Linked DNA regions of Homo sapiens. The protein of the gene in region 1 interacts with the protein of each later gene in a pairwise test. Each region holds a gene or a part of one and is shown on either strand. Other genes may lie near its edges.

Region 1 (3,500 bases):
CAGGCCCAGGACAGGGCCCAGCCAGGCCTGACCCAGAGGTTCTGGGCCTCCCTTGCACACCCAATCTGCCAGAGAAGGGGACTGAACCCACCTCGGGGAGTCTGTGGTGGAAACTTACTACTCCCTCAGTGGTGAACAGACCCGGGTCAGGGTCAGGCCAAGCTGAAGAGTCCAAGCCAAACCCACAGATGCGGGTTAACATTTGAATCTTTACCAGACAAAATTCCTAACTGTGTCTTTTTTTTTCTCAAGTGCCAATTTCAATCAGAAAATATACTGTGGCTAAAATAAAATAAAACTACAGACTCTACTAATATTTCCTAGGGCTTTACTGAGGAGAGTTAAGTGAATGACTTAGCTTTGCAATGCAGACTGACTTCTTTTTACACTTTAAGAAAAAAAAGACACCCTCATTATACGATAGTAGTAGAAGGTATGCAAATGCAGTCTGTGTGTCCATCTTCTGTAAGGTCTTGAAGGAACAGGAACCCTCTGCTGCCCCAGGCTGTCCCTCTGGGTACCTGGATGATTGGTGACACTGCCATGCCTTTTCTCATGCTTCTTCCCGAAGAGCCCTTTCTCAGCCTTCACATAGGAGCAACTTACCCATCAAACCACAGCAGAGGACTCACCCCCTTGTTAAACCATTCTTTGACTCACCCAGATAAACATGAGCTACTTCTTGTGCATGCCAAATGCACCATGGACATGCTTTGGGTGTCACTCCCATGATACTGAAGTGAGAATATCTCTTTTTTTATCTGTCACCTCCATGAGGCTGTGAGCCCCTGGGGTCAGGACAATGTCATATCCAGTGTTACATGCCCAGCGCTCAGAACAGAGCTTAGCATAGGGTGGGTGCTCTGACAATATTTGTTGGGTAAATAAGTGACTGAATGAATGAGCATGTTAATGGGTGAATTAATGAATGAGTTAATAGTGAATAATGAAGTCATGAATGGGTTAATGAATAAATGAACTAAAGGATAAATTAATGAGTAAATGAACAAGTGAGTAGACAAGTAAATAAATGAGTATATGAATAACTGAGCAAGTGAATAAATGAATGAGTGAATGAAAGAATGGGGTTCTTATTAACAGTCTGCAGGTGAGTCACTGTTCTGGCCAACTTTCACCTCTCTAGGTCCTTTCTCCCTCTTGCTTCGGCCCCAAGTTACAAACTAGACCAGCGGCTGCACCCCTGAGCCTCCACCCCTGAGCCCCCAGAGACAGGGCTTATGCCAGCCAGCTCTTGCCCTGTGTCCACTGTTGCCACTGTGAAATCAGAGCTGCTCCCACCCCCAATACCCCCACTCCACTCCAGCCACAGCCAGAAAGCACCACTCACAGCTGAGCCGCACGGCCTCCCGTGCCACATCTGGGTCTCGGCTGAGACGAGCCAGGGTCACTGCAGCTTTCTGCTGGACTCGCTCACAGGCTGCCACTTCAGCAGGAGTCCCAGACCTTGGTTTTTCAGACAGCATGCCCATGATAAGCTGGACCCCTAGGCAGGAAGCAAGGAACAGTTGGTACCTACCCCAGCATGGAGCCTTCCCCATGGGGCCAGCTGGACAGATGGCTGCAGGGTGCAAGCAAAGGCTGTCAGGATGACTTCAGGGGTCTCACCCACAGGGAGGAAGCTGGACAAGGCTGTTCCTCCATGCCTTCTTCTCCTGAGGGTGTCTCCATGTACCAAGTCACTATACTTGGGAGGAGCATCTGAAGACATCTTTATTTTTTAATGCTATTATTGAGCTTTTACTACACACTCAGCACTGTGCTAAATGCATAGTAAATGCATAATGCCCTAAAACCTTCCAGTAGCCTCATGTATTAGGTACCATTACAATTCCATTTTGAAGCCCAGAAAGAAGTGAAGTATCTTGCCCAGTGTCACATGGTTAGCAGTTGGGGGAGCCGCTATTAAAATTCAGATGTAGCATCACATTTAGGATTAAGAAAACGAAAGAAACTCAGATAACTGGTTTCTCTACATCACCTCTTCACTTCTGATACTGGCTGCTTCTGAGACAGGTCCAGTGGTGATGAATCCCCCAGGTAAGAGGTGATCCAAACCTAAGCTGGATATTGACTAGATCAAATGTTTTAGAGTAAATTCAACCTGGAAAAGGGTGCAGTAGTTAGACTGAGAGTTTTCAACCGAATAATCTCTGCTGAGAAGCCTCCTACCTCTCCCTGAAACCAGATTTGTCTTCTGATTGTTCTAGAAACCATACCCATGTCCGCTCATACCTCCTTGCCTTTACCCACTCTTTCTTTCTACAAGGGATGCCATTTTCCCTCTTGACGCTCCATCTAAAAAACTCCACCCTGCAGGTTGTAGCAAAAGTTCATCTTCTGTGTGAGCTGTTGCCCAACTGCCCATCCCACACTCCCCTCTTCTGCACCCAGTGGCTCCTGCCAGCTTAGAACTTAAGCCAGACATGACCCAAGGATATAGTTTTGCTTTGTTTTGTTGCCCCATATAGTGTCTACAATTTTTTAGATTTTTGATAGTGTGCTAACTGGAGGATTTCTATAAAAATCTAGATTTCTGACTTCTGAAACTGCCTCCTGAATTTTAACCCTAGGACCTCATTTCTGCACAACAAATTGTTAAAGCTTATTATGAGTTCCTTCTTTAAAAGAGATTGATCCTGTCTCTGGTGAGCTCGCCTCGTCCATTTACATTACCTGTCTGAGTTTTGTAGGCATCTAAGTTTGCAACCTGTTATTTAGACCATGGACTCTCAAAGCCCAGTCTGCACAACAAGATTTGCCCTGTCCAGACCTTAGAGGCCTGTCTTCCAGTAGACACCAGTTGCATTGACACCATTGTTGATTCCTCAAATCCTGCCCTGCTTTGGAAAATAGCTCCTTCATTAAACTCTCTTCAGGTAAACCCCGTGAGACTGCCACTGTTTCCTGAAAGAGCAGGGGGGCTTAGCATAGTGCTCATTCTGTGCCAGACAATCTTCTAACGTGCTTCATGTTAATCCTCACAACATCCTTATGAGGTAGGGATTATTCTCATTTTGCAGATGAAAAAACAGAGAGGTCATATGGTTAGTAAACAACAGTGCCAGGATTCAAACCCACAGAGTATGGTTCCAGTTTTCAACCTCAACCACCATGCCAACCTCCCTCTGTTGCATTATTCTATTGTAGATGTTATATTTTTATCATATGTCACTTTTGTTAAGTTGTGCTCTCTGTCTAGACTGTGAGATCCTCTAGGACAAAGACAGGGATTTAGTTATCTCTGTTCTCATTGTCTAGCACAATGCCAGGCACATATTAGGTCTCAATAACTGTTTACTGATTCAGTCAGTCAATAGCACTTTGTGAACCATAAAACCCTCTACAGATGCCAGATATTCCAATCTCAAATTCACAGGCCTATGGAGACCCACTCCCACTGAACACTTCAACGTAAGGCTCTATAAGTACCGAAAGAACGGAGCACAGATGCAGTAGCTCAGCTTCATGGCCTCAGCTGG
Region 2 (3,500 bases), on another chromosome or scaffold:
CAGCCTGGCCAACGTGGTGAAACCCTGTCTCTACTAAAAATACAAGAGTTAGCCAGGTGTGGTGGTGGACGCCTGTAATCTCAGCTACTTGGGAGGCTGAGGCAGGAGAATCACTTGAACCCGGGAGGCGGAGGTTGCAGTGAGCTGAGATCACGCCATTGCACTCCAGCCTGGGCAACAGGAGTGCAACTCTTCTCAGAAAAAAAAAAAAATGAATAAAAAATCAAATCTTATATTTATGTGGTATTCCCCTCAAAGGCTCTGGAGAACACAGTAAGTACTCAATAAACACTTACTCAACTGTAATTATATGTTGGTTGTCAGCATGCAAGGAACCTGCACCATTACAGAAACTGTCACAGCCAAGCTAAGGAAAAGTTCTCCAAGTTCAATTTCACAGAATCATACATGCCATTTTAGAGTTAGAACATATCTTTTTTTAAAAAAAAAGCCAGTTCTCTCATTTTACAGGTAAAACCTTGGCCCTGGGATATTAAGTGACTTGTCCAAATTTATACTGAGAGTTAATGTTGGAATCAGGAAAATAGTTCAGGCTTTGGAGTTAAGTGCATCAATGTAAGTTACAAACATTCTTCATGTCTTCAATTTCCAGAACTGACTATGATGTGCACTTCAGGTGCAGGCTCTACTCTTCACTCTGTATTATCTCAGTCAGTGGCTACCCTGTAGGCATATAGTACATTAAAAATTCCTTGAACACCAAACTTGACTTTTCCTAAAGGGATCAGGAAGGTCTTGATATTGCTGGTTCAGTATGATCTGGAAATGTCCACACTGAGCATATGGACATCCTACTGCAAAGCAGACCTGGAGGCTGAATCTTGGGATTCTAAGCCATAGAAGAATATATTTTCCTCTCAGCCTCCCTCCATTTCATGCTGTCATGCTGAATCACTCTCAAACACCTATGAACCATTCTTTTTTTTTTTTTTTTTTTGAAACGGAGTCTCATTCTGTTACCCAGGTTGGAGTGCAGTGGTGCGATCTCAGCTCACTGTAACCTCTGCCTCCCGAATTCAAGTGATTTCCCTGCCTCAGCCTCCCGAGTAGCTGGGACTACAGGCAAGTACCACCACGCCCGGCTAATTTTCTGTATTTTTAGTAGAGAAGGGGTTTCACTATGTTGGCCAGGATGGTCTCGATCTCCTGACCTTGTGATCTGCCCGCCTCGACCTCCCAAAGTGCTGGGATTACAGGAGTGAGCCACCGTGCCCGGCCCTGAACCATTCTTTAGCACAGCATACTGGAGAAGCCATGGGCAAATACTTAGTAATCTCTTACTTTAGAAGGAGGGAAGTTGCCTATGAGTGGTAATTCTGCCCCTTCCTCCACTCTAGCCAGAAAAATGTCTAGGTCTTGTCCTGAAGGCTTTCTGAGTAAAGTCAAAAGTTCTATTACCTCCTACTAAGCTGGGGATAGTATCTGTATAGAACACTCCCTTCTGATCTTTCCCTGCTTTCAGCTTTTATATGATCCTCCCCCCTCCCCCCAACCCCTGGTTGCATTCTTACCTGTTTGGCTAAGTGGGTGCCAGGCGGTATCCTGCTGCCCCCATCCAGAACAGCCAGCTTGAGAAGCCTGAAGACTGGCCTGATACAGAGACTCCAATTCTGAGGTCTCCTGCTCTGTGTCTTGGTTCCAATGTGGATGCAAAAGGATGTGATTTCTCTCTGGATAGGTTACACACGTATGGGAATCATGAGGGGAGGACTTCATTCCTGGCCTAGGTGCCCCATGCTTAAGCTGAGAATCACAGAACCTTGTGATATTCACCCAGGAATCCAAAGGCAAGGAAGTCCCCAAGTCAGTACTGCTGCCCAGATCCTTAGACCTAACATCTCTCACTTGGGACAGCTTCTCTTGGTATATGTCTGGCTCTGCCAACCTGGGCTGTCCTCCGCTAGAAGTTTCACCATTAGGCAGCCCAGAGTTTAAGGCAAGAGAAGAATGTTCAGTGGACTCTTCCCAGGAAAGTGGTCTATCCCCACCCTCCAGAGAGGATTGTTGCTTTGCCCATGGCCAGTGGCCTTTCTCTTGACCCTGTGAGAAAGGAGGCTTAGAATCAGAAGGGGAAGAGTTCTTCCTTAGACTACCTGACAAACTTCTATCCTTGAAACCTGTACTATCCCTCATGGAGACACCCTGCATCCTCTGGAACTGCTCAGCCAGAGAACGGACAAGCCCCTTTGTGCTGGGAAACTCTGGCCTATAGGTCTCCTCACTGCCTCTGTCCACTTTTAAAGTCAATGAAGTTTTGAGGCTTTGGCCTTGGAGGCATTGGTTAGTTTTCTGCACAGGATCAGGACAGTGAAGCACAAATGAAGAAGCAACAGGCATTATGGGGTGGCAGGTTCTATACAGGGGAAGGCTGGGCTGAGCTGATGAATTTGAAGGACTACAGCCTAGGCTGTGTTCATCACCCCTCTCAGAGGTGGCTATTCCAGGCATCACCGGGGAGGGGTTAGCAGGATCCTTCTTTTCTTGGAACAGCTGTTCTTGAGCAATGCCTCTTCCTTCTTGTGGAGGGAGCTTGCTGCAACTGCTGTTGTCACACCTAGAGCCTTGCAGCTTACCCTCTGGGGCATCCAATGGCTCCCAACTATGATGAGAATTCTTCTCAGTCCACCCTGGTGCTTTAGGTAAACCTTGCCTGTGGAATGCAGAGGGTTCAATGTTGTCTACTTCAACCGAAGTCAGAAGCTTCAAGGCAGATCTACTGGGGGAGCTGTGCTGTGGGGCAGATGACTCTGGAGATAGTGATGAGTGTGACTCATGGCAGGAAGCAGGTGAATGGAAGAAAGAACTGGCCCCAAACTCTGTATCCATGCCGGATTCCAGTTGGGCCTCTTGGCTTAACAATACTTGGAGCGGGATAGGCTGTTCACTGAAACAAATGGAGAGAGCTAGTCATAAGCTGCCTTGACTGACAGGAACACTTACAGAAAGAACTCAACATTCCATTCCCATTTCTAGCTATTCACACAGGGAATGGTAAAAATAAACAGAAAGACAAGCACAAGTAGAGTCAGTAGTTCAGAGGATCACAAAAGAAAAGGCACATGGTCAGCTCACACTCAGGTAAATAGGTAACGTTAATCCTCTTTATTAAACACCCTCACCAAAGTTGCACAGTAACATTAAGTGGAGCCCTTGCCAATATTCTTCACTACCTGTGAAGTCGCATTCCAATCACATTCTACTTGCAAATTAGGAAACAAAATCAGCTAGTCTCACATGCAGATGACATGGAAGGTAAGCAAAGCCTGAAAATCACTCATACCAAACAGCAAAAATCCAGGATGCTATACAGGGAGGCAAGTCCTACCTGGGGTCCTGAGAGGCAGCCCGGCCAAAGGAACTATGAGGCCACATTTACAAAATACAGGGTGATTTGGGCTCATGGGAATACACAGAAATTAACCATTTCAAATATGTTTTTATAATCTGGATTTTGTTCTATTAGTCACTGAGATGTTTCC

What was found.
Region 2: the proteins of INSC (region 1) and USP54 interact in binary tests that used the Homo sapiens proteins (3 or more experiments, as listed by UniProt).

Annotation. Positions count from the first base shown.
Region 1 is NC_000011.10:15,236,923-15,240,422, reverse strand, and holds part of INSC (protein inscuteable homolog), read right to left. Parts: intron 1,505-3,500; coding exon 1,349-1,504; intron 1-1,348. UniProt on the Homo sapiens protein: May function as an adapter linking the Par3 complex to the GPSM1/GPSM2 complex. Involved in spindle orientation during mitosis. May regulate cell proliferation and differentiation in the developing nervous system.
Region 2 is NC_000010.11:73,514,843-73,518,342, forward strand, and holds part of USP54 (ubiquitin carboxyl-terminal hydrolase 54), read right to left. Parts: intron 2,906-3,500; coding exon 1,533-2,905; intron 1-1,532.